Linked DNA regions of Homo sapiens. The protein of the gene in region 7 purifies or fractionates together with the protein of the main gene of each other region. This does not show direct contact. Each region holds a gene or a part of one and is shown on either strand. Other genes may lie near its edges.

The links.
Region 1: the proteins of DUSP4 (region 7) and SRM purify together in Homo sapiens (affinity purification with mass spectrometry, with the first as the bait; one large-scale study listed by BioGRID). This does not show direct contact.
Region 2: the proteins of DUSP4 (region 7) and GATD3 purify together in Homo sapiens (affinity purification with mass spectrometry, with the first as the bait; one large-scale study listed by BioGRID). This does not show direct contact.
Region 3: the proteins of DUSP4 (region 7) and LARS1 purify together in Homo sapiens (affinity purification with mass spectrometry; one large-scale study listed by BioGRID and IntAct). This does not show direct contact.
Region 4: the proteins of DUSP4 (region 7) and CAD purify together in Homo sapiens (affinity purification with mass spectrometry; one large-scale study listed by BioGRID and IntAct). This does not show direct contact.
Region 5: the proteins of DUSP4 (region 7) and DSG2 purify together in Homo sapiens (affinity purification with mass spectrometry; one large-scale study listed by BioGRID and IntAct). This does not show direct contact.
Region 6: the proteins of DUSP4 (region 7) and ACOT7 purify together in Homo sapiens (affinity purification with mass spectrometry, with the first as the bait; one large-scale study listed by BioGRID). This does not show direct contact.

What each region holds. Positions count from the first base shown.
Region 1 is NC_000001.11:11,057,219-11,061,353, forward strand, and holds the start of SRM (spermidine synthase), read right to left. Parts: upstream 2,801-4,135; 5' UTR 2,726-2,800; coding exon 2,559-2,725; intron 2,128-2,558; coding exon 2,007-2,127; intron 1,675-2,006; coding exon 1,582-1,674; intron 1-1,581. UniProt on the Homo sapiens protein: Catalyzes the production of spermidine from putrescine and decarboxylated S-adenosylmethionine (dcSAM). Has a strong preference for putrescine as substrate, and has very low activity towards 1,3-diaminopropane. Has extremely low activity towards spermidine.
Region 2 is NC_000021.9:44,132,246-44,136,482, forward strand, and holds the start of GATD3 (glutamine amidotransferase-like class 1 domain-containing protein 3, mitochondrial isoform 1 precursor), read left to right. Parts: upstream 1-1,437; 5' UTR 1,438-1,452; coding exon 1,453-1,593; intron 1,594-1,856; coding exon 1,857-1,909; intron 1,910-2,664; exon of another isoform or gene 2,665-2,723; intron 2,724-3,814; coding exon 3,815-3,928; intron 3,929-4,237.
Region 3 is NC_000005.10:146,151,651-146,155,150, forward strand, and holds part of LARS1 (leucine--tRNA ligase, cytoplasmic), read right to left. Parts: intron 2,331-3,500; coding exon 2,243-2,330; intron 2,161-2,242; coding exon 2,084-2,160; intron 1,578-2,083; coding exon 1,524-1,577; intron 353-1,523; coding exon 212-352; intron 1-211. UniProt on the Homo sapiens protein: Aminoacyl-tRNA synthetase that catalyzes the specific attachment of leucine to its cognate tRNA (tRNA(Leu)).
Region 4 is NC_000002.12:27,230,869-27,234,368, forward strand, and holds part of CAD (multifunctional protein CAD), read left to right. Parts: intron 1-599; coding exon 600-712; intron 713-1,111; coding exon 1,112-1,356; intron 1,357-1,579; coding exon 1,580-1,826; intron 1,827-2,173; coding exon 2,174-2,272; intron 2,273-2,443; coding exon 2,444-2,668; intron 2,669-2,757; coding exon 2,758-2,940; intron 2,941-3,139; coding exon 3,140-3,358; intron 3,359-3,500. UniProt on the Homo sapiens protein: Multifunctional protein that encodes the first 3 enzymatic activities of the de novo pyrimidine pathway: carbamoylphosphate synthetase (CPSase; EC 6.3.5.5), aspartate transcarbamylase (ATCase; EC 2.1.3.2) and dihydroorotase (DHOase; EC 3.5.2.3).
Region 5 is NC_000018.10:31,504,677-31,508,176, reverse strand, and holds part of DSG2 (desmoglein-2 preproprotein), read right to left. Parts: intron 1-3,500.
Region 6 is NC_000001.11:6,282,268-6,285,767, forward strand, and holds part of ACOT7 (cytosolic acyl coenzyme A thioester hydrolase), read right to left. Parts: intron 1-3,500. UniProt on the Homo sapiens protein: Catalyzes the hydrolysis of acyl-CoAs into free fatty acids and coenzyme A (CoASH), regulating their respective intracellular levels.
Region 7 is NC_000008.11:29,344,185-29,347,684, reverse strand, and holds part of DUSP4 (dual specificity protein phosphatase 4), read left to right. Parts: intron 1-1,610; exon of another isoform or gene 1,611-2,155; coding exon of another isoform or gene 2,156-2,315; intron 2,316-3,500. UniProt on the Homo sapiens protein: Regulates mitogenic signal transduction by dephosphorylating both Thr and Tyr residues on MAP kinases ERK1 and ERK2.

The DNA.
Region 1 (4,135 bases), on a different chromosome or scaffold from region 7:
CTTGAGAGCTGGCTCCTGCCGGCGGCTTGGGCTCCTCTCTCCCATCCCTACCCCCTCCTTCCAGACCAAATCGCCCCATCTGAGTGGCTTTCTTGTCGCTTCCTATTTTATTTATTTTTCGAGACAGTCTTGCTCTGCTGCCCAGGCTGGAGTGCAGTGGCACGATCTCAGCTCACTGCACCCTCCTGCCTCAGCCTCCCGAGTAGTTGGGATTACAGGCGCACGCCACCAAGCTGGGCCATTTTTTTTTTTTTTTTTTTATTTTTAGTAGAGACCTTGTGATCTGCCCGCCTCAGCCTCCCAGAGTGCTGAGATTACAGGTGTGAGCCACCAGCGCTTGGCCTGTTTCCTATTTTAGAAGGATGCAATTCCAACCTCTGGCCAGGAGAACCTCCCCCTCCCTGCACACGGCCACCTGCTTTTCACTGAGGTCTCAGCTCAAACGCCACCTCCTGGAGGCCTGCCCTGACCACCCCCCATGCATTCACAGGAACCCTGCCTTCTCCTGTCCCCCAGCCCCTGTCTTGCCTTCATCAGACCATCCTTTGATGTCTCTATTTTTGTTGTTTGTTTTTTTTGAGACAGATTCTTCCTCTGTCACCCAGGCTGGAGTGCAGTGGCGAGATCTCGGTTCATTGCAACTTCCGCCTCCCGGGCTCAAGTAATTCTTCCACCTCAGCCTCCCTAGTAGCTGGGTTTACAGACATGCACTACCATGCCCGGCTAATTTTTGTATTTTTAGTAGAAATGGGGTTTCACCAGGTTGGCCAGGCTGCTCTTGAACTCCTGACCTCAGGTGATCTGCCCGCCTTGGCGTCCCAAAGTGCTGGGATTACAGGTGTGAGCCACCACGTCTGGCCATCTGATGTCTCCTTTAACTAGGACATCAGCTCCTAGAGGGCAGGGACTGATCTGTCGTCTACCACTGTCCCCATACCCGGGCAACACCTGGCACGTAGCATGATTTTAGTGAGCAGCTACTGAGTGTAAGGGGTAACGTACAAATAGTTGAGCTGTCTTGGGGCCCTGCCTGGGGCTCAGATTAAAAATCAGCTTAGTCGGCTGGGCGTGGTGGCTCACGCCTGTAATCCCAGTACTTTGGGAGGACGAGGCTGGCGGATCACCTGTGGTCGCCAGGTCCGAGACCAGCCTGACCAACATGGAGAAACCCTGTCTCTACTAAAAATACAAAATTAGCCGGGCATGGTAGCGCATGTCTGTAATCCCAGCTACTCCGGAGGCTGAGGCAGAAGAACTACTTGAGCCCAGGAGGTGGAGGTTGCAGTGAGCCGAGATCGCACCATCACACTCCAGCCTGGGCAACAAGAGCGAAACTCTGTCTCAAAAAAAAAAAAAAAAAAAAAATCAGCTCAGTTTTAGTAAGAGCTCGCCACGCAGGTGCCCTCACCACCTGCCAGGCCCTCTGCCATCTGGTTTTCCTACTGAACCCTCCCCGACCAGGTGTTTTCCAGATGGAGAAACAGGCCCTACCTGCCTTGCTCGGGGGTGTGCAGCCATTTCAGGGCACAGCTGGCCGCTGGGAGAACCAGGACTCAAACCTGGCTCTACGCCGGCACTCACCTCGTCGATCTCACACTGGACCACGGACTCCACGGAGGGGTGCTTCACCACCTCCCGCAGGACACCTCCATCTCCGCCCCCGATGATCAGCACCTGGGAGGAGGGGGCAGTCAAGGCAGGGGCCCTGGCAGGACTGGGAGCCCCCAGGCCCCTGAAGCAGACCCCCTGACCCCTCGGACCCACGGGCCTCATCTTTTTCTACCCTCGGAAACGCTTTCGTGCCGGTGTCCCCTTTCCTGGAAGTTCCTTCCAGGGCTGCCCTAGGATTCCGAGGCCGCGTCAGTGTCGGCCCCCACCCCTCCGCGGGACGCCCCTGGCCTCGCTAGCACTTTCTCTGACAACCATGCAGGCAGCATCTGGGAAGAGCCCGGAGCACACCTGGGGCCGCCCCTCGTCCGGCACTGTTCCAGGGGACACTGGGGTACCTTTCGCGGGTTGGGGTGGCTGCAGAGAGGCAGGTTGGCGATCATCTCCTGGTAGGAGAACTCGTCTCTCTCCGTGCACTGGATGACACCGTCCAACACCAGCACGTTGCCATAGGTCTTACTGCGGGCGGAGTGACAGTCGGGGACCTGGGTTCTCTGGGGTGGGGAAAACGTACCCCAAGCCGCCCTGGGTGAGGAGGGTCTCCCCATCCCGCCTAGGGGTCCCAGGGATGAGGAGCGATGGTGACACGTGGCGAGGAACGGCAGGCGGGCCGCCGGGTGGAGGCCGGGGTGGGACCCGGGGTCTCCTCGGGCTCTGACGTGTCCTGAGGGCTGACACGTGGAGCGGGGCGCAGACTCCGACTCCCCCACCCAAGAGGCCAGCCCGCAGTCCCAGCCCCAGCCCAGGGAGGCGGTGTGAGGGGTGGCGAGGGGGCCAGGGCAGGACGAGGTCCAGCCCGCTTGGGTCCCGGCGTGGAGAGGCCCGTGAGGCGGGCAGCAGGCGGCCCGGGCTGAGCCTAGGGGGCAGGCGCCTGCGGGCAGCGGCGGTACCTGCGGAAGACGAGGATGTCCTGGTAGCGCGAGCGCCGGTGGTGGAGCAGCTGCTCCACCTGCAGTGACAGGGCCTGGCCGGGCCACAGGCTGCAGGTCTCGCGGAACCAGCCCTCGCGGATGGCGGCGGGGCCGGAGGCGGCGGGGCCGTCGGGGCCGGGCTCCATGGCGGGCGGGCGGGCGGCGCGGGGCGCGGGCCCGGGACTGCAGGCCGCGCGGCGCCGCAGCACAACGGGACCAGCTCCGCCCGCCGCCCGCGCCGCAACCTAACCCGGGCGCGGGGCGGGGCCTGCCGGCGGGGGCGGAGCCCGCGCTCGCCAATGGCAAAGCGGCCTCGCCTGGCGCTCATTGGCCACCGGCTCGCAGAGCGGCGCAGAGTGGCTGTGGCGCGCCGTCCGTCGGCGGCAGCAGGGTAGTGCGGCCCGCTCCAGGGGCCACGTGGGGCCCGGCCGGGGCCGGGCGGCCGGGTCGGGTTCCGGGGCGGGCTGGGCCGGCGGAAGGGGTCCGGGTCCTTCCTCCGCCCCAAGCAGCCGGGGCGGTGCACCACCGGCCCCCGCTTCCTTCTCGGGGTTGGGAGGCACCGAGGGCCTCGAGGGGCTGCGGGACTCGGGCTTGGTGTGGAGGGCAAGAGCGCTGCGACGTGCGGACTGGAGAGTCAGCCTTTGGGCTGGAGACACGGGAGCGGGTGGCTACAGTGGTTTACGTTGTTGCACGGGGCGAGTAGAACGTATCCTTCTTTGCGTCCAAAATCTGGTTCCTTGTTGGATTTGAACAGATTATGTGGCTCGTCGGGGCGAACCGAGGGTTTTTATTTACTTGGAAAGAATCATCACAGCCCGCGAATTCACAAGCTGGATTTAGCCATTTTCCCTTAGATTCTGCGCCATGAGCCTATAGGCTGTTGAATACGAGAGAAGTGCTTTTCTAAACGAGTTTCTAAATTTACCAGCAGTGTCCAGGAAGAGGCCCAGAACATACATATTCAGCACCAGAAAAGACTGGCACGCAATTTTTCTTGACAAACTGGGTCTTGCTCTTTGAAGGGTGGGTGGGAATGTGCTGTTTTTATGAGAATGTCAAAGAACTTCTCAGAATCACATTAAGCATGCTAATTACCAAATATTAAATGCTAATTGTTCCACACGCAGTTCGAATGCCAAGGAAGGAAGATGAAACTAGTATAAGCTACTCTTGACATTATGTCAGGGATGGTTTTGACACGTTTTGCAGCCTCCACCTGGAGGTGGGGAACGTTTCCTGTGTCGTCCCCAGAGCAGAGTAACAGCGTTGTTTATGGGTGAGAGCAAGCCTCAAGCCTAGGCAACAATGTGCCTTGCTTGCTTTTAAGCTCCTTCTAAAGGGGAGGTAAACCAAGACCGCTAAAGAATTGCTAGGTGCCTGGGCGTGATGGTTCACCCCGGTAATCCCAGCACTGTGGGAGGCGGAGGCGGAGGCGGGCGGATCACGAGGTCAAGAGATCAAGACGATCCTGGCCAACATGGTGAAACCCCGTCTGTACTAAAAATACAAAAATTAGCTGGGCATGGTAGTGCGCGCCTGCAGTCCCAGCTACTCGG
Region 2 (4,237 bases), on a different chromosome or scaffold from region 7:
AGCTGATGCTCCCTGGCTGGCCGCTCCCCAGGAGCTGAGAAGCCTGAAGAGGGCCAGGCACGGAGGAGCAGGAACGAGGACAGTCAAATGTGCCAAGCTTGTCTTTGGTTGTAACTGGTAATGTCCCATGTCTGTTATTCTAGTTCCCCACTATCTTGCAAGGATTGGCAGTAAAGTCCTAGTGATGGACAACGCGGCAGTGGGGAAAGTGACAGCCGTGGCTAGATCATCAGATGTGTCTGTAGAATCCGGTGTGTCCCTGTGAACATCCGCCAGCAGTAACCATTCACATTATTTCAAAAACCTGCATTATTAGGTTGAAAATGGGTAAATCGGGGAAAAAGCCAGCACTTATCCAGCTATTCCTCTGTGAACTAACCCATGCATAACAAACAGATTTTTTTAATGGAAGAATTCCAGCTAGGACCCGAGCAGCTGGGATCTTCACACTGACCGTCCATGCTGTGAACGTAAAAAACAAAAACAAAAAAACAAACCCAAACAGCGCCCGGGAATGGTGGCTCACGCCTGTAATCCCAGCACTTTGGGAGTCCGAGGCGGGCAGATCACCTGAGCTCGGGAGTTCAAGACCAGCCAGACCAACATGGAGAAACCCCGTCTCTACTAAAAATACAAAATTAGCCTGGCGTGGTGGCGCATGCCTGTAGTCCCAGCTACTTGGGAGGCTGAGGCAGAAGAGTCGCTTGAACCTGGGAGGCGGAGGTTGCGTTGAGCCGACTTCGCGCCATTGCACTCCAGCCCGGGCAACAAGAGGGAAACTCCGTCTCAAAAAAAAAAAAAAAAAAACCCAAACAGAATCGGCGGCTCACTTGCCCCCAGACTAACCCAGATCAAGCCCCTGGGTGGAACTGCAGTTTCCAGGATACAACATCCCGGGGTCAGTAAAACCCGGAGGGGTCGCTCCGTGGGAGCCGGAGCCGCGAGGAGACAGTCATGGAAGCGGAGGGGTAGTCCTGACCCCGCGTGGGTCCTGACGCCGAGATTAAGACGAGTGGCCATTTAGGAGGATGTGGACCCTGGACGCTCGTGGTGAGTTAAGGATGAGACGGAGGTAAGGTAAGAAGCGCCGGACTGAGCCGCCCCGAGGCAGCCTTGCTCTGCGGATGGCGGAAAGGGTGCGCCGCCTGTGGAGGCGTCCGATGGGGGCGGGGCTGGGGACCCCGGGAGTCACCAGCATCCCTCAGCCTCGAGCACGAGCCCTCAGCCACCACCGGAAGGAAGACAGGGTTCCCGGAACTCTATTCGGAGGCTCTGCGCAGGCGCGGCCCCCGCCCACCGGCGAACTCACTGGATAGGGCTGAGACGGGGGCGGGTCTTGGCTCCGCCCAGAAGGCTGCGCAGGCGCAGTCCCGACGAGCAACGCGTTTGTAGAGGGGTGGGTGCGCACGCTCTGTCCCTGCGTGACCTTCCGACCCCGCTGTCCTCACCGCAATGGCGGCTGTGAGGGTCCTGGTGGCCTCGAGGCTCGCTGCGGCATCTGCATTCACGTCCCTGTCCCCCGGCGGTCGGACGCCTTCCCAGCGCGCAGCCCTTCACCTCTCCGTGCCGCGCCCCGCGGCCAGGGTCGCGCTGGTGAGTGGACGGAGGGGGTGAGGTCAGCTCCCGCCTCCAGAGATCAGCCTTCGCTGTTCTCTGCCCAAGGTCGGCCCCTCTTCCTAGGTCCGCTCCCGCCGCCCCACGTCGGCTCCTTCACCCCAAGTCAGCTCCTGCGGCCCAGGTCGGCCCCATTTTCCCGGGTCAGCGCCCGCGGCCCAGGTCGGCCCCTTTCCCCCCAGTCAACTCCCGCCGCCCAGGTCGGCCCCTTTCCCCCGGGTCAGCTCCCGCTCCTCTCGCAGGTGCTGTCTGGATGCGGAGTCTACGATGGGACCGAGATCCACGAGGCCTCGGCGTAAGTCCTCAGGGGCAGCTGGTCCTCCACCCCGGGGGCCTCGAGAAGGCCTCTCCACCAGTGAAGTTTACTCTTTTTTGAACAGCTTAGAGAAAGCATGTATTTTATTTTATTTTTACTTTTTGTCTTTTGAGACAGCGCCCAGTCTGGAGTGCAATGGCGCGATCTTGGCTCACTGCGGCCTCCGCCTCCTGGGTTCAAGCGATTCTCCTGCCTCAGCCTTCCGAGTAGCTGGGACTACAAGCATGCACCACCACACCCAACTAATTTGTGTATTTTTGGTAGATACGGAGTTTCACCATGTTGGCCAGGCTGGTCTCAAACTCCTGACCTCAAGTGATCCTCCCGCTTTGGCCTCCCAAAGTGCTGGGATTACAGGCATGAGCCACTGCACCCGGCCGAGAGAGCTTGTATTTTAAATACCCTATTCTTGGCTAAAAAAAAGCAAAAACGACTTGCAAAACCCAGGGAGACGCTAAGAAAGAACAGTTTTTAAGTGTCGCTTATGCTGTCACCTAGAGCCTAGAAATGACTTAGCATTTCACTTGAGTGTTTTTCAGGACACACACATTTTGAAAACACTGAGATCACACTCACCCGTGTTTTGCAAATGTTTCTGACGCATGGGAAGTAATTCCCATTCATTCAGTTCTCAACATCATTTTAACAGTTGCGTGGTATTTCTGGGTCCTAGACAGGTTACTGTTTACGTAACTGGTCAGCTGTTGCTGAGTGCTTGGTGGCCTGATTTCCTGTGCTACTGGAAATGACTGCAGGCCGAACCAGTAGGGCAGGAGGCCACCACGCGTGCCAGGTACCTGTAGTTCCCATGTGGTTCAGGGTGAACTGGAGAGGGGAGAGCTGGGTGGTGGCGAAAGGGGTGTCAGGCCATGGAGAGTGGCCTGAGGCTGGTGGCTTTGTGGGTGGCCCACCTTGGCTGGTTGGAGTTGGCACTAGGCAGAGTGAGCTGGGGGAAAGGGCCAGGATGTGTTTCATGATTTGGCCTTGGTGGGATAGAAAATAGCCCCAGAATAGCTTGAGCCCTCCCAGGCAGAACGGCAGGGTCTTGTGTCTGGGGTGTCTGGGTGGATTTCTTATGGGTAGCGGAACCCAAGTGCCAGGGCCAGGTGCTGACCTCTCCCTCTGGCAAGTCACTGCACTTCATGCCTCGGTTTCCTCCTCCACGTAAGGGGCAGTGAGGGCTTAGTGTGTGGGTGGGCTTAGCCACCTATCTCCTGTTGGCACTGGGAGTTGCGGATGCCAGCGTGAGCCCCCATAATGTCAGCTGTTGTCCCCAGGAGGAGCTTCTGTTGCCCTTGCCCTTGGGGAGATGGAGCTGCCTGGCCTGTGGTGTTGTCCTGGGGTCTCTTGTGTCTCTCCCACCATCTGTGATGGGAAAGTTGAGGGAGACTAGAAATTGAACTAAGTAGTGACCGAAAGCCCCGTCACACCGTCTGTGCACGTGGCACTCTGAGCACACTGCTGCTTCTCACTCTTGGTGCTTGCAGCAAGCAACTGGAGGAGGGCAGCCAGGCCCTGGGTGTAGGTAGAGCACTCAGCAGCCGGGGACCCGCACGCCTCCAGGCTGTGCCCTCAGTGGAGTCACCCGGCCCCCATACCCCAGTTTGCAAAGGGAGCTGTTGGGACCAGCTGATCTCCATAGCCCACTTCTGAGGGTTTGTCATAGTCGTAACCCACCAACCGACAGTGAATTGGAATGGGGGTGTGGGGGACGTTTGGCTTGGTATGGAACCAACTGTAACTTTTTGCAGAGCAAGTAAGATATTAATATACATTAGGAATTTGCTCCTGGTACTTAGCTAAAATCCTGTTTTTAAAAATGTGTTAACACAAATCTGAGTGGGGCACGTTTTGAAGAGTTGTCTCTGGTTTTCCCCCGTGCAGGATCCTGGTGCACCTGAGCCGTGGAGGGGCTGAAGTCCAGATCTTTGCTCCTGACGTCCCTCAGATGCACGTGATTGACCACACCAAGGGGCAGCCGTCCGAAGGCGAGAGCAGGTGTGGGGGTGGGATTGGAACTTGCTTCTTGTCTACCTCCCACGGTGCAGCCTTTTTTTGCTGGCTTAGCTTAAACCAAGTCTTGTGTGCAAATGAACGTCCTTCTGAGCAGCTGTGCTCGGGCTGTTCCAGAAGTAATGCTGCCAAGGCTCAGGAGTGCCTTCCTTCCAGTACTCACAGAAGGACTGAAAATGGCGACCGGATCGCTTCCCACTGAGTCAGGCTGCTCATACCTTGGTCTTAAGCAAAGGTGGTGGTTCTCAGCTTGGTCGCCCACCTTCTTCCCCTGTCTGGGCTCCAGATCTGTTT
Region 3 (3,500 bases), on a different chromosome or scaffold from region 7:
GCACGAAAAAGACAATTTCTGAAAATGCTTTTAGGCAAAGGACATGATAAAAACAAAAATTAGAAATTTGGAAATAGAATACATTCTCATATTAAGCTCTCAAATCAATGTATAGCTGAAACTATGTTAAATTTTTCTACATTTTTTCTAATTAAGAAAATCACAGAGCATGGAGTAAAGCAAATAAAAACTAAAAAAAATTATTACTTACACCCTCATAAAATCCTTTTAGATATATCTTCTCCTTTGCTTCTGCAAGTTTTTCCCGGTCATTCTGGCTCTGAATTTTCAACTCATCACAAATGGTTACAGCAGAAAGATTTCCAAAACCTGGGATTTCAATGACTGGCACCTGCAGCAAACAGCAATCAGGAACGTGTTCACACTGACTGGACACACAGCTCTGTAGGGCACAAGTCCTTTTGCCTCTAATGTCCAATTAAGTCATTTCAGATTGTATATGTCATTACGACACTGCCACACATTAAGTAATCACAGAGTGACTAACTTCCAGATGTAAATTTGTCCTTCTACTCTCCACAGGAACCACCCATACTCTGTGTACCAACACCCCCAATGCCCTTCCCCCACCACACACACCTTTCCCAACACTCTATCCTCCACTGGCATATAATTACCTAAGTAATTCATACTGAAACTAGCAAAATGATGTAAACCAGGGGTTCCCAACCCCAAGGATGTGGACCGGTACCAGTCCATGGCATTAGGAACCAGGCTGCACAGCAGGAGGTGAGGAACGGGCGAGCATCACCCCCTGAGCTTCACCTCCTGTCAGATCATGGGTGGCATTAGATTCTCATAGAAGCACGAACCCTATTGTGAACTGTGCATGGAGGGATCTAGGTTGCTTGCTCCTTATGAGAATCTAATGCCTGATGATCTAAGGTGGCACAGTTTCATGCCAAAACCATTCCCCTACCACACCCTGCTGGTCCATGGAAAAATTGTCTTCCACAAAACCAGTCCCTGGTGCCAAAAAGGTTGGGGCCTGCTGATGTAAACAACTAGATTCATGGATGGTTGTGCTTTTGGTTTATATTAATTCCTCTGGATCTTTCATGAAATGAAAATCATTTGCTAGTAATTTAAAAGTTTTTCTTCTATAGATACTAACATGAAAATACAAGAAACATAAAACAGAGTTGTACAGGACTTTGTTAAAGTTATTATGGTTACATATAAACATTCATGAAAAGGGCAAAATTTTATCTTTAGAAGCCAGGAAATTGATCACACTAGCAAAGCAAGCTACTATAAAATTGGTGATGCTAAAAAGCTATTTGTTCCAGAACTGCAGGTGCCAGGTGGTAAGAAAATGCTTGTTAGTTTTCCTTTTGCTCTTATCTACCATAGCAGGTATCAAATTAAAGTGAGTAAATCCTTAAGCAAACTCTCTTTTTCATACTCCACCAATTAATTTTGTTATAAGGAAAACATGTTAGCTCTTCTTTTTCTCTGATAAAGAGATGGATGTGAATATTCTGAATTATCTATGTACTCACCGGCTCAAATGGCAAGACCATGTCATCTCTAATTCCATATTTTGCTCGTAAGGCCTACAGAAAAATTTGCAAGTTAACACTAATGATCAACACTTTACTGGGAGAATCATTGAGAGAAGCAATCTCCAAAGTTTCTTAAAAGTTTCTTTAAAGTTTCTATTTGTTCTCCTCTCCATAGAGAGCAATTTTCTAACTTTGCCAAATATCTCAAAAGGGATCTGTAACCTTCAAAAATTTAATAGCTAAAGTTATAGTGAATAGCCTAAATGAAACCACACAACCAAAAGCAAAAATGTACATAGACATACACATATCACTTAAATTGAGGTTCATATGCCAGATTTCAATGAAAATGTGAATATCAGAAAGCTTTTTCAAAATTCTGTGAACATATTTAAAATTCAAACCACAGAAAATATATTAACATCAAGAAACAAGTTAGAGATAGCAGTTTAAAGATAAATGCATAGCTTTTTAGCCTAGTCCCACAGCGTAGTTCAGCAGCACCTAAGCAATGAGATGGTGAGGACGAAATACAAACATGAAACTCAGATACTTACTTGCTTTTTCTTCAAGTCTCTGAGGGCAGCAATATCATCAGGGGAGTCGGAAGGAACACTTGTAACCACACCAGTGCCTTAGAAAACAAAGTGTGGAATTAATAACTAGAACCAAAATGTGTTTATCAAAATATTTCTAGAAATAAATAAACTCTTTACCTTTATCCTCCTTAATAGTTAGCATTGGGAGAACATAGATCACCTTGTATGATGTTAAAGGTGCAGAAAGTGATGCACCAAGAATTTCCTGCATAAGAAAAAAATCAATATAAAAGGTGAAGTAATTCATTGTGACCATTAGAATTAAAACTATGTTAATATTTTAAGCCCTGAGAAGCTAGTAATCAAAAATATATGGAAATAAATTCAAGAGCTATATTGTACAATATGGTGACTATAGGAAATAACAATGTATTTTATACTTGAAAATTGCTGTGTAGATTTTTTTAAGAGACAGAGCCTTGCTATGTTGCCAAGGCTAGAGTGTAGAGGCTATTCACAGGTGCTATCATAGCATTCTACAGGCTCAAGCTCCTGGGCTCAGGCAAGCCTCCTGAGGTCCCAGCCTCCCAAGTAGCTGGCTCTACAGGTGCATACCACTGCACCTGATTTAAATTTTAACTCTTCTCACCACAGAAAATGGTAAGTACGTAAGGTATAAATTTGTTAATTACCTCAATTTAGCCATTTCACAATGTATATATATTTCAAAACATATTGCGTACCATAAATACAATTTCTGTCAATTAAAAAATGAATACAGGCTGAGCGCGGTGGCTAACGCCTGTAAACCCAGCACTTTGGGATGCTGAGGCAGGCAGATTGCCTGAGCTTAGGAGTTCGCGACCAGCCTGGGCAACATGGTGAAACCCCGTCTCTACTAAAATACAAAAAATTAGCCAGGCGTGGTGGCATGCGCCTGTAGTCCCAGCTATTTGGAAGGCTGAGGCGGGAGAATTGCTTGAACCCGAGAGGTGGAGGTTGTAGTGAGCCAAGATCGTGCCACTGCACTCCAGCCTGGGTGACAGAGGGAGACCCCGTCTCAAAAAATAAAGAAAAGAATATAAATAAAATACATATGAAGTAAAACAAAACACATTATTTTATACCTACTAGAGGAAAAATAATTTTTTTTTTGAGATGGAGTTCTGCTCTTGTTACTCAAGCTGGAGTGCAATGGCATGATCTCGGCTCACTGCAACCTCCGCCTCCCAGGTTCCAGCGATTCCTGCCTCAGCCTCCCATGTAGCTGGGATTACAGGCATGCACCACCACGCCTGGCTAATTTCTGTATTTTTAGTAGAGACAGGGTTTCACCATGTTGGCCAGGCTGGTCTTGAACTCCTGACCCCAGGTGATCCACGCACCTCTGCCTCCCAAAGTGCTGGCATTACAGGCATGAGCCACCGTGCCCGTC
Region 4 (3,500 bases), on a different chromosome or scaffold from region 7:
ATGGGGATATATTCCAGTATCCCCATGCCCGTTTTAGGCATATTGATTCCATATTCATCAATAAGCACAAAGCCTGAGCTTATCCATGAAAATAGCAGGGAAAAGAGCTATAAGTTAAGATTTCTTTTTGTTTGTTTGTTTGTTTTGTTTTGTTTGAGACGGAGTCTCGCTTTGTTCCCCGGGCTGGAGTGCAATGGTGTGATCGCTGCTCACTGCAAGCTCCACCTCCCGGGTTCACGCCATTTTCCTGCCTCAGCCTCTGGAGTAGCTGGGGCTACAGGCGCCCGCCACCACTCCCGGCTAATTTTTTTGTATTTTTAGTAGAGACGGGGTTTCACCATGTTAGCCAGGATGGTCTCGATCTCCTGACCTCGTGATCCTTCCGCCTCAGCCTCCCAAAGTGCTGGGATTACAGGCGTGAGCCACTGCGCCCGGCCATTAAGATTTCTTAGTTGTGAAACACCATGAATCCCACCATCATGTGACTTGCCTTGAGAATCTCCCAGAGTCTTGACTATAAACCATAAGCATTATGGGCAGTGCCTTCTTCCCACCCCTTCCACCTCCACACCTTCATTCCTTCCATTCTGTTCTTCCAGGTGAAGTCATGGGCATTGGGCGTTCATTTGAGGAGGCCTTCCAGAAGGCCCTGCGCATGGTGGATGAGAACTGTGTGGGCTTTGATCACACAGTGAAACCAGTCAGCGATATGGTAAGTAGCTCCCCTCCCCTGGCAATACCCCTAAAATAGACCCTGCTTCTCATCGCCCCCAGACCATGAGCTTGTTACCAGTAACACTAGCAGCAGTCATCATTGGACATTTGCTTTGTTTCCACTTTGCTGAGAATTTTGAGATGTCTCATTAGCACGCAAGGGTGTATTACTAGACTTGTTTTTACAGATGAGGAAACTGAGACATAGGTTATAGAAATTACTCAAAGCCACATAGCCAATGAGAGGTAGACCCAGGATTGGTATCCAGGTTTTTGCAGTTACACAGCCTGTGCTCTGGTGTACAGTTTCCCCTTCCTGAGACAAGAGCAGCTACTTACGCTCAGGCTTTTAGATGGGCTGGCAGTAGCTTCCGTCTGTCTACCCCCTTTCTATCAGGAGTTGGAGACTCCAACAGATAAGCGGATTTTTGTGGTGGCAGCTGCTTTGTGGGCTGGTTATTCAGTGGACCGCCTGTATGAGCTCACACGCATCGACCGCTGGTTCCTGCACCGAATGAAGCGTATCATCGCACATGCCCAGCTGCTAGAACAACACCGTGGACAGCCTTTGCCGCCAGACCTGCTGCAACAGGCCAAGTGTCTTGGCTTCTCAGACAAACAGATTGCCCTTGCAGTTCTGAGGTCAGAGGTGGCAATGAGAGCTTCCGGCTGGGAAATGTGGGGCAGAACCTTTGTATCAGTGAGGGACCCTTGGGAGGGAGGAAGGAGAGTGTGGGAGAGCTTTAGAGGCTTCTGACCTTGGTTCCAAGGATATTTCCTCTCATCTGTGCCCTGGGGTCTCAACCCTCTATCAGTCTGTACCCTACTCTCTGGGCCTGTGTTTCAGACCCTTTTTCTATTTTAGCACAGAGCTGGCTGTTCGCAAGCTGCGTCAGGAACTGGGGATCTGTCCAGCAGTGAAACAGATTGACACAGTTGCAGCTGAGTGGCCAGCCCAGACAAATTACCTATACCTAACGTATTGGGGCACCACCCATGACCTCACCTTTCGAACACCTCATGTCCTAGTCCTTGGCTCTGGCGTCTACCGTATTGGCTCTAGCGTTGAATTTGACTGGTGTGCTGTAGGCTGCATCCAGCAGCTCCGAAAGGTCAGAGAGTTCATTTTCTTTCCACTTTCCTTGCTATTCTGTTCATCTCTAGCAATTGCTTGGCACTAATCCTGGCATTTCCTATTAATTGCCGTCCCTTACTTTGGTCATAGAGCTTTGGGGTGGGGGTCCTTTTAGGCCATCTCTCATGCCCCACACGGTATATGAATCTCTTCCCCAACACTTTGTACCTCCTTCCCTCCCAAGGCAGGGGTCCTGTACAGCTCTTTCAGAGGAAGCTGTGCTGGCAGTCTCTGAAGTAGGGGCTTTGGCTTAGTTTCTCCACGATTTTCTCCACGATTTTCCTCCCACCTGACTGCTAAGTACCCTTCCCCTCCCTCTTGCAGATGGGATATAAGACCATCATGGTGAACTATAACCCAGAGACAGTCAGCACCGACTATGACATGTGTGATCGACTCTACTTTGATGAGATCTCTTTTGAGGTGAGGGAGATGGAGGCTTCCTGGTAGCTTGAGTGGCCAGGGTCGAGTAGAACAGCTGGCTGACCTAAGATTCTTTGAAACTTGGTGGCGGCTGAGGGAAGCAGTGAGCAGGAAGGCTCAGATTCCTGCCCTCTTTTGCTGCCACCACTTGTTTCTCCCCCTGCAACGTAGGTGGTGATGGACATCTATGAGCTCGAGAACCCTGAAGGTGTGATCCTATCCATGGGTGGACAGCTGCCCAACAACATGGCCATGGCGTTGCATCGGCAGCAGTGCCGGGTGCTGGGCACCTCCCCTGAAGCCATTGACTCGGCTGAGAACCGTTTCAAGTTTTCCCGGCTCCTTGACACCATTGGTATCAGCCAGCCTCAGTGGAGGGAGCTCAGTGACCTCGAGGTGGGCTGGGACCTGGTGGGTTACCCGGAGGCTGGATGATGCTTGGGGGAAAGTGTGAACAACTCAGCTAAGCTCCCTGCCTCCTGTAGTCTGCTCGCCAATTCTGCCAGACCGTGGGGTACCCCTGTGTGGTGCGCCCCTCCTATGTGCTGAGCGGTGCTGCTATGAATGTGGCCTACACGGATGGAGACCTGGAGCGCTTCCTGAGCAGCGCAGCAGCCGTCTCCAAAGAGCATCCCGTGGTCATCTCCAAGTTCATCCAGGAGGCTAAGGTGGGAGGCTGCAGACAGTGAAGTCTCTGAGGGCATGCTGCCAGCCCTGGAGGAGACTTCCTTCTCTGGTCCAGCAGAATCATAGGCACCAGGGCTGGGAACAGTGGGCTATGTGGGGCTCGTTAAAGGAAGAGACAATCCTAGAGTAAGTGAGAGAAGAAAGTGGCCCTATGTCCCACTGTCTGTGTCCCCCCGCTAGGAGATTGACGTGGATGCCGTGGCCTCTGATGGTGTGGTGGCAGCCATCGCCATCTCTGAGCATGTGGAGAATGCAGGTGTGCATTCAGGTGATGCGACGCTGGTGACCCCCCCACAAGATATCACTGCCAAAACCCTGGAGCGGATCAAAGCCATTGTGCATGCTGTGGGCCAGGAGCTACAGGTCACAGGACCCTTCAATCTGCAGCTCATTGCCAAGGTAATAAGGCTAAAGGAAAGAACTAAAGGGCCACAGCTCTTGCATGTTCTGTGCTGGCCACAGTGCCATGAAGCCCTGCACTGTCTCCTGCCTTCATCCAAGTAGGCAGGGAAGCTGGAGGGAAAGGGCTGTAGCTAGAGCT
Region 5 (3,500 bases), on a different chromosome or scaffold from region 7:
CCATTTTATGGTGTTGGGAAAACTGGCTAGCCACATGCAGAAAACTGAAACTGGACCCCTTCCTTACACTTTATACAAAAATTAACTCATGATGGATTAAAGACTTAAATGTAAGACCTAAAACCATAAAAATCCTAGAAGAAAACCTAGGCAATACCATTCAGGATATAGGCATTGGCAAAGACTTCATGACTAAAACACCTAAAGCAATGGCAACAAAAGCCAAAATTGACAAATGGGATCTAATTAAACTAAAGAGCTTCTGCACAGCAAAAGAAACCATCATCAGAGTGAACAGGCAACCTACAGAATGGGAGAAAATTTTTGCAATCTATCCATCTGACAAAGGGCTAATATCCAGAATCTACAAGGAACTTAAACAAATTTACAAGAAAAAAACACTCAGCCCTATCAAAAGGTGGGTGAAGGATATGAACAGACACTTCTCAAAAGAAGACATTTATGCAGCCAACAAACATGAAAAAAAGCTCATCATCACTGGTCATTAGGGGAATGCAAATCAAAACCACAATGAGATACCATCTCACACCAGTTAGAATGGCGATCATTAAAAAGCCAGGAAACAACAGATGCTGGAGAGGATATGGAGAAATAGGAATGCTTTTACACTGTTGGTGGGACTGTAAATTAGTTCAACCATTGTGGAAGACAGTGTGGCGATTCATCAAGGATCTAGAACCAGAAATACCATTTGACTCAGCAATCCCATTACTGGGTATATACCCATAAGATTATAAATCATTCTACTATAAAGACACATGCACACATATGTTTATTGAGGCACTATTCACAACAGCAAAAACTTGGAACCAACCCAAATGCCCATCAATGATAGACTGGATAAAGAAAATGTGGTACATATACACCATGGAATACTATGCAGCCATAAAAAAGGATGAGCTCATGTCCTTTGCAGGGACATGGATGAAGCTGGAAACCATCATTCTCAGCAAACTAACACAAGAACAGAAAACCAAACACCACATGTTCTCACTTATAAGTGGGGAGTTGAACAACGAGAACACATGGACACAGGGAGGGGAACGTCACACACTGCGGCCTGTTGAGGCTGTGGGGGTAGGGGAGGGATAGTACTAGGAGAAATACCTAATACAGATGACGAGTTGATGGGTGCAGCAAACCACAATGGCATGTGTAAACCTATGTAACAAACCTGCACGTTCTGCACATGTACCCCAGAACTTAAAGTATAATTAAAAAAAAAGAAAAAACAAAAAAGCAAAACGATACTTTTTCTTTTCCTTGAAGTCGTTGGATTGCTCAAACAAGCAAACTAACTAAAATACAATTTCAATTCAAAATAGCATTTATTAAATGACTAGACATGTAAAAAATATTTTACTCTTTTATTGGTAGGTGTTTTCTGTAATGGCCACAAATGCTTTTGGAATTAGGCAAAATATAAATAAAGCTGTATAACAGACTTCACAAAATTTGATAAACAAAAATTATAGGTTGTCTCCACTCTTTTGCTGCAATATATTCCTGAACTGAAAAGTAAAATGAAGAAAATGATTTCTTTTCACTGGGCAGTTTAAGAAAACCAAGAGCTTCAGACTGTCCTTTTTTACCATTAGATGGCACTGGCCTGTCAGTAAGGCAAACTGCAGGAACTACCAGAAATTAACCGACAGGCAATTCCAAGGTCTAAAGTGGGAAGCAGGCGTTTCATTGGTCTCAAATAAGTGGATCAGCAAAATTGAAAAGAGTGAAAATCAAGGGCTTTAGAAAGTTATATGTACAGTTTTGCAGGATTATATCTCTGAAATGAGGTAAATCTTAATTTACATTTCTTGTTTTTTTCCTTTCTAGAATGATTCTAATTTGCAGTGAAATTAATTATCTAGTTCCAGAAGTTCGGACCTTATTGATGACTCACTGTAGCAAACTGCTGTAAGGGGAATTCACGATGATGCCTCTGGGTTGACAGACAGGCATTTGGTGCCAGGTGAACCTGGGTTTGATTCAGTTTCACCCATTATTAACTTTCATTAAATCCAGTGACTGGCACACAGCGGATATTCAAAAAATGTCAAGTTCTTGTCCTTATACTCCTTTCTCCACTGTAAGCTCCAGGATTGCAGGGGGCAGTTCACATGTCCTTAGAAGACTGTTGGTCATATAGTAGACGCCCAATTTGTGACTGCTAAATGCATAAAATTTAAACAAAAATTTACTACTCGGCCAGGTGCGGTGGCTCACGCCTGTAATCCCAGCACTTTGGGAGGCTGAGGCGGGCCAGGTCAAGAGACCAAGACCATTCTGGCCAACATGGTGAAACTCTGTCTCTACTAAAAATACAAAAATTAGATGGGCGTGGTGGCGTGCACCTGTAGTCCCAGCTACTCGGGAGGTTGAGGCAGGAGAATCGCTGGAACCTGGGAGGCGGAAGCTGCAGTGAGCCGAGACTGCACCACTGCACTCCAGCCTGGTGAAAGAGAGAGACTCCATCTCAAAAAAAAGAAAAAAAAAAAAAAAGAAAAAAAAATTACTACTTAACCTATCTGGGCATTAAATAATTCTCTTAAACACATGAAATCCATATCATTATTCCAGCTTTTCTAAACACAGAAAGATACTTTAACTCACATTTTTAAAGAATACGTCCGTGCCCAAGGCATTTAGCTAGTTTATAGATAAAAGATACAAAGATCTTGCTCTGAAGAAGCTTACAGTTTAATAGGAGGATCAAACTACTATGAGGTAGGAAACCTTAATTGTATAACTGACGGCTATAAAAATAGTTCTGGGGAACTCAGAAAAGGCAAGATTACTTCCTTGCGGGGAAATCAGGAGAGGTTTAGCAAGGAGATAGCAATGGGCTTGGCCTTGGAAATGGAAGATAATCTGTTTCTGTGCATACAGGAGGAAGGAAAACGCACAGATGAGGGACTCCATGTGCCAGAACATGGAGATATTTGGACAAAAAATGAGAAGTAGTGCAGTTTGGCACCTAGAACTATACGATGGTGGCAAGTAGAAAATAAGGACAAAGCGTTGAGCTGAGGCTCTTCACTGATCTTATAAGGAGTGGAGAGTCGTTGCCAGCTTCTGATTAGGGAGACTATGTCGCTAGTGATTCTGAAGATTTTTTGGCAGTACTGTGCAAGATAAAAGGCAGGAGACAGTTCAGAGATTAAATTACTAAGTCAGGGAGATGGAATGAGGAACAGTATCAGGGGAATGGCAATGAGATAGACAGGTAGAAGTAGGAGTCTTTATGGGGACAAAAATCCTTGGCAATGCCCTGTGTGGGGATAATAGGGAAGGAGTCAGAGGGTGCCAACGTTTTCAGTCTGAGTGGCTAGAAAGATGCAATTTCCAGAAGACAGATTGTAGACATGTTAAGCTTAGGTCCTGGGGAAAGTATCTGAGTAGGGCGGAGAGATGCTACATAACAGAGAGCAGGGCAGTGCGGCTCAATGACGAGCATGGATTGCCTGGCCACTGGGGACATT
Region 6 (3,500 bases), on a different chromosome or scaffold from region 7:
TGCCTGGGGGATAGCTACGGGATGGAAGGACTCAAGCCAAGAGCTGACCTGGGGCCCCGGGAAGGTGTCACCATCGATGTCACTGGCCACCAGGCTGCAGAAACCCCCGGGGACTTCCGGGGCAAGTGCTGCCCTGCGGTCAGAATGCCCTCCCAGGCGGCCCAGCGTGGCCTCTATTCTGGGCCAGGCTCAAGGATATCCCTGCCCGACTCTGGCTGCTGGGACTTGCTCCCCAGGAAATATATCTGGCTTCGGGGACTTTTTAATGTGGCCTCTGGAACCCCCAGTGTCCTAGCTGCACCGAGACCAGCCTCACAAGGCAGGTTTAGAGACCCAGAGTGAGAAAGCGGCCAGGTGGTGGCTGTTGGAGGGCGGTTAGCAGGCCAGAGGCAAGAGCGGTTATTCCATGTTAAAAAGTATCAGAACGATCCATGCTACATTCAACTTCATACTTACAGGGAGCACTTCGTGCCAGTGCTGGGAGAGGAGGAAGGAGCTGTGTGGTCAGCGCCAGCAGGCATTACGTGAGCTGTAAGGTACAGAGTCCCATGCAAAGCGCCCGCAGTCACAAGACGCACCCCGGGAGGAGGGCAGGCCATGGGTCAGGCCCCAGCTAAGGAGCTAGAAGTTTCAACAGGTCAGACCTGAGGGTCTCCCAGCATCTCTGCCTCCTTCCTCACAATGCCCAGCCCACATCCCTCACCAACAATTGTGTATAACACTTGGGAGTCACAGGCCAAAAAGCAGGAACAAGCCCTTTCCATGAGCAGAAACCAACAAGAACTTCCCTGTGGCCACGGTGTCACACACGGGGGCCACCCATGAGCGTGGTGCCTGGAGGAGGGCAGGTTCCAGGGGTCTTTGAACACTGGCTCTTAGTTTTGAGGAGCAACAGAAAACGTGTTTTTGTTTTTGAGATGGAGTCTCGCTCTATTGCCCAGGCTGGAGGGCAGTGGTGCCATCATGGCTCACTGCAACCTCTGTCTCCCAGGTTTAAGCGACTGTCACACCTGTCACTTAAATAGCTGGGATTACAGGCGTGCACCACCATGCACGGCTGATTTTTGTATCTTTTGTAGAGATGAGGTTTTGTCTTGTTGACCAGGCTGGTCTAGAACTCCTGGCCTCAAGTGATCCAACTGCCTCGGCCTCCCAAATTGCTGGGATTATAATTAGGTGTGAGCCACTCCGCCCAGGCTCCAAAAACATGCTCTTGGTGTTGCCCATGAAGGCCCACCTTGGCCACTGCTGCCACGGCCAGATCCTGGCTGCTCATGGCTTAATTGCTGTGTTAGAAATCTGAAGAAACTCCTAACAGCAATCAACAATGACTTTAAACAACTAAGTAGGTTGATTATAAAAGCATTAGACGTAACAACAAAAAGAAGAGAATGCTGTCTGGGAGAGCCTCTTGTGGTCCATAATACAATTAACACTTCATAAATGTCAGGAAAATTTTCAATTACAACCAAAATCTGAGAATTTTCACCCTTCAGAGAGCAACATCATTATTCTAAACAAGACACAGGCTATAAGGTTGGCTAGCAGGACAAAGTGAAATACTTTAAAACTGGAAACCTAACTGGATATAGTGGCACACGCCTGTGGTCCCAGCTACTCGGGAGGCTCAGGCGGGAGCATCGTTTGAGCCCAGGAGGTCGAGGTTGCAGTCAGCTGAGATCGCACCACTGCACTCTAGCCTGGGTGACAGAGCAAGACCCTGTCTCAGAAAAAAAGAAAAAAACTGGAAATCTGATGTGGTCACTGGCTGGGACTTAATTTGAAACCTAGGGTTGACAGACGAATCACAAGTCCCAGTCACCAAGAGAGAGCCCAGTTTCCAGGGGCCCTGGTTTAGGGTATCCCATCTCCTAGACCCTGGGCTCAGAAGGCACATCCCACACATGACACCAAGGTCTCACAGGCAGCCTCTGGGAAGGGACTGTCCCAGGGGACCTCGGGGGGACCAGCTCCCACCCCCAGGGCTCTGTTCCTGCTCTAGCCCTTCCTGAAGAATTCCAGCTACAGACCGGGCGCAGTGGCTCATACCTGTAATCCCAGCACTCTGGGAGGCCGAGGCGGGCTCATCACTTGAGGTCAGGAATTTGAGACCAGCCTGACCAACATGGTGAAACCCTGTCTCTATTAAAAATACAAAATTAGCCGGGCATGGTGGCACATGCCTGTAATCCCAGCTACTTGGGAGGCTGAGGCAACAGAATCGCCTGAACCCGGGAGGCGCAGGTTGCAGTGAGCTGAGATCATGCCATTGCACTCCAGCCTGGGCAACAAGAGCGAAACTCCATCTCAAAAAAAAAAAAAAAAAAAAAAAGAATTCCAGCATTCCAGCTACAGGCACTTTGTCAACCCCAGGATGGCGGCTGAGGCGCACACCAAATCCTCTCCGCCTCCTCCAGGTCACATAGAGGCCCCCCTGCAGCATCGAGGCCTCCCTGGGGACGGAGGTCCATCCAGGTGGGGTTGGGGTGATGAGCGACTGGCCTCAGCCTCTACAAGGGCCCCTAGCCTGCCCCCTGCTTTCCACACCCCACCAGAGTGGCCTTCTGTGAGCTCCCTGAAGCTCCTGGCCCCCGTGGTCTCTCCCTAGAAAAGCCCTCCTCTTACAGCTATCTGGTTCATCTTCTGAACCTCGGCTCAAGCATCCCTTCTCCAGAGAGCTGCCCAGGGCGGCTCAGCCCCCTCCACCACACCCCCTCTAGAACTGTCCTCCACTCCTGCAGAGCCAACGACCCCATTTGCATTGGCACACTTGTTGGCTTGTCTATTTCACTGTTGTCTGTCTGTCCCCATCTAGCCTGGAAGTCCCACGAGGGCAGGGCTGGGCCCAGGGGGCCCAAAGCAGGTATCCAGTTGACAGGCTGGACCCCTCTGGGGACCCACGAGGGCTGGGGTGTGGGTCACATGTGGACACCAGGTCACCACAGACTCAAGCTGGCCAGAGCCCCATTAGAGCCCCAGGTTTGCATCCTCCTGAAGTGGATGCTGAGCAGCCCAGAATCAGGAGTGCCCAGGAGCATGGCCAGCAGCCCCTTCCAAGCCCTGCTGGCCGGTACTTCCTTCCAGTCTCAACTTCAGTGCCACTCCTGGAAGCAGCCTGCCCTGGAGCCCCACACCTGTCCACCTCCCTTCCTCCCTGCAAAAGGGTGGAGAGCCTGGGGGCAGTCACGTGCTGGCCGTCACCTGCCCACGGGGCAGCACAGACTGATTCCGCCCTTCCTGCTAATTCCTCCATGGCGCAGCCATGTGCTGTCATTCCTCCCACTGGGTCAGAGCCTGGACCATCCAGGCTGCCGGCCAAATCATGACCATGCCCACAGGTCCCTCCACCAAATGTGGAGGCGGGTGAGGCTGGTCATGCATCAGAGAGCTGAAGACAGCGTGTCCAGGTGGCTCTCGGGAGCCCTGAACCTGACAGGAAAGGCAGAGGCAGGGCCCGACAAGCACTGCCTGCAGACCTGGCGTGTCACACGGAGGTCAGG
Region 7 (3,500 bases):
CCGACGCGGGCAGGGAGAATCATCTTCTGCATCTCAAAGTGGACATCCTTGCAGATGGAGGTGTGCAGGCCTGGGCCACAGATTTAGCTTCGGTCTCTTCTAGAATAGCCCCTCCTAGCCAGAAGTTCAGCTTCTGCTTCCAAAGGGAGCCTGCCCTTGGAAGCAAGCACCTAAAATTGAGAGGTGGGGGAATCTTCCAGCCTGCTCTGTTGTGGTGAACATCGTTGAGGTTAACTGGGCCCTATTCGGTTTAGCTTAGCTGATTTTGACATATGTGTTCAGCAGAGGCCATCTTTAACCCAGTTCCTCTTCTTCCTCTTTGCCCTCTAATGGAAAGGCATCCCTAGAGAGGTCAGAAGGAAAAAGTCAGTATCTGCTCCCACAGCTCTGCGGGAAGGGGCTGGGGAAGGAAATCAAGGTGTCTCCCAGGTCTCCAGATACACCTCCCTTCCATGCCTGGAAGCCAGTGCAGTGGAGCAAATGTGGTTTCCCGGGAGGGGGCTCTGGGGCAGAGACCTAAAGGGGAATTTTGAGAAGCAAAGGAAGAAAAAGCCCCTTAGATTATCTTTAGTAAATGCCTGAATTGGTGAAGGGTTGGAGAATTTGTTTCCTACTGGAGTAATTCATTTTATTTTCCAGCGAGGGAATGTATGTATGTCTCATTTCAGGTGTGCCTGTGCGTGTCTGTAAAGCAGGACAGGAAGCCAGTGGAAGGCTTGATGGTTGGTGTCTGCCATTCTTGGAGGGGTTAGGAGAAGCAGTAAAAGCAACAAGAGTATTTTCAGAAGTGATAGTAGCATGTCCAGCCAAAGCTATCTAATTCTATTAATTGCATTTTAAAATTCAGTTTTTCTATTTCTGCCACGTTGAAGGGTTACTTCAACCACGTTGAACTGGTTACTCCATGCAGGTGGCAGGAGGTAAACTTCGCTTAATATCAAGAAAGTACAGCCTAGCCTTTACATTTCCTCAGATTACCCGACTTTTGCTAAAAGCAATAACGAAAAATCTAATGTTTTCTATCTTTGCTAGTAAAGGATTTCCAGTGGGGTAATTTTTTTAAAACTCATTTAATTTAAAATCTTGTAAGGCATTTTTAGAGTCAGTTTGGAAATTTTAGTTTTTCAGATTTTATCACAATACACTTCTTGAAATCCCTTTCTCTCTCATTCGTAAATCCTTGGATTAGAGTTTGAGACTCCCCTGGTCATTAGAGAAAGACAAAAAGAGCTTTTTCTTACCCTATTCTTTGCCTTTATTAACCCCAAATAACAAAATAATCTGTTATGCAAAAAGATTGCAGGTATAAAAACATTACCTTCCTTTCCACCTACCTAAAACTTCCCTCAGCCTTTGTCAGTTCTAATTTAAAAGCTGTCCTGGAGCTGTTGGAGAAATGGGGAAGATCATCTAGATATTCCAGTTTCTCCTTCCACTCACCCTATAGTACCGGATAGCATCCAATAGCCCAGGGCCTGACCATACAGCCCATGATATTACCCTTTCTGTAGAAAACAGTCACTAAGGCCACTGATGAATGTGGGGGGAGAGGAACACAATTAACAGCTCTGGAAACTCTGGTGACATTTTTCTGTTTTTTCTCTCTCTAGCCCCACCATTGCTCTCTCTGTCTTCAGTTCCCCAGGAGGGCAATGGCATCAAACAGCACAGCTCTGGGGGATGTCAATATTGCATACCTTTTCTACCTAAAGGGAAAATGACTCGCTTTTCTGCTTGCAAATATGGTAGTTTCTGCTTACAAATGTAATACAATGCCCATGACAGCCAAGGACTGGAAGCATAAGTTGCTAGGTCTTACAGGTGATTTTTTACAATGAAGCAAACTCACTATGTTAGACACCATTTACATTGGATGTCTCCAACTAACAAAAGTAACTAAAGACAGATGTAGGTGTAAATTGAGAGTGAAATTTGACCCTTTAGACCGTCACAACTTCCTTGGGCTTATCCTGGGTGCTTATAGGAGAGGTGGGCTCCACCCACAAAAATGGACTGCTCAGAAAAATGAGGGAGAGAGAAAGGGTGGCCACTTTCCCGAGCCAAGAAATTCCTTGAAAAAAAATCAGAACATCTGAAACCAGAGAGCCGATTTCCTTACCGGGAGGCAGTTCCTGGCTAACGAAGAGGAAGCACGATGGGAAGAAAAGTTCACTCCAACGGAAGCCAGTTTGCTGAACATAGCAGATCGCCCAGGAGGACTGGGAGAGACTGCAAACCAGTTCGAGCCCCCAGCATGGCGTTAGGTGTCAGCCAGCTGGCAGGAAGGTCCAGGTGTCTGTGTTCAGAGTCTCAAGGTGAGAAGTTCACTTAGTTGGATTTTAAATACAGCTCAGCATTTACATAGGTGCTTACTAAGTCAACAGTCACATAAAGTAGAGTTCCCAAAGGCAAATGGCCTTCAAACAACCCCAGACTTTCTTGCAAGAGCATGACTTTTCTGGCAAGAGCAAGGCCATGAGCCCTGCCTGGGACCTGGCACTATTCTGAGTGTTGGGGGCATAATGGGGAAAAAGTGGCAGCCACATTAAGATTCATGACCAAGGCCGGGTGTGGTGGCTCACACCTGCAATCCTAGCACTTTGAGAGACTGAGGCAGGCAGATCACTTGAGGCCAGGACAACATGGCAAACTTGGTCTCTACAAAAAATGCAAAAATTAGCCGGGCGAGATGGCATGTGCCTGTAATCTCAGCTACTCAGGAGGCTGAAGCAAGGAGATTGCTTGAGCCCAGGGAAGTCAAGGCTACAGTGAGCCATAATCGTGCCACTGCACTGCAGCCTGGGTGAGAGAGTGACAGTGACAGACCCTGTCTGGGGAAAAAAAAAAAAAAAAGATCCATGACCATAGTCACCACCAAAGGACAGTCTTCCCCATCACAAATCCCAGTAACAGTCCTATTATGGTGATATTATCAATCTGCCCTTTGTAAAGTACTTTTACATACATTATCTCCTACTCCTGCAAGGGACGGGGGAGTGTGGTGGAGGGCTTCTAATGAGGGGTCCTCATTTCCACTAAACTTGGAAAATTGCCTCCCTGTATGAGGATGTGAGAAGGAGGAGGCACAGTGGAGTTGAACTGTAGATGGAGTTATTCTTAAGTAAGTCTGATGAAAATCACACTCCTTTTTTTCTTCCAGACTTTCAAATTGTAAAATAAAGGTGATAAAATGAGAGATTTAGGAATAGAAAATATATTCTTAAATAAGGACATGGGAAAAACAGGTTGAAATTAGTAAGAAACCTCTTATGGAATTACATTCAGTAGGACACAGACACGTTCAATACATTCATTTCATACATTCAAAGGGCATAGGAAAAACAGAATTCATTCATTCAGAATGGCACATTTGATAATGAAATTATTCAGGAGATAGAAATGCAGATTTTAGGCACCTGCTGCTTCAGAGCTGGCAAAACTGACACGCAAATAAGTAGATCCTGGATATTTAGAAGCAGAGGATATTGGAACTTAAAGAT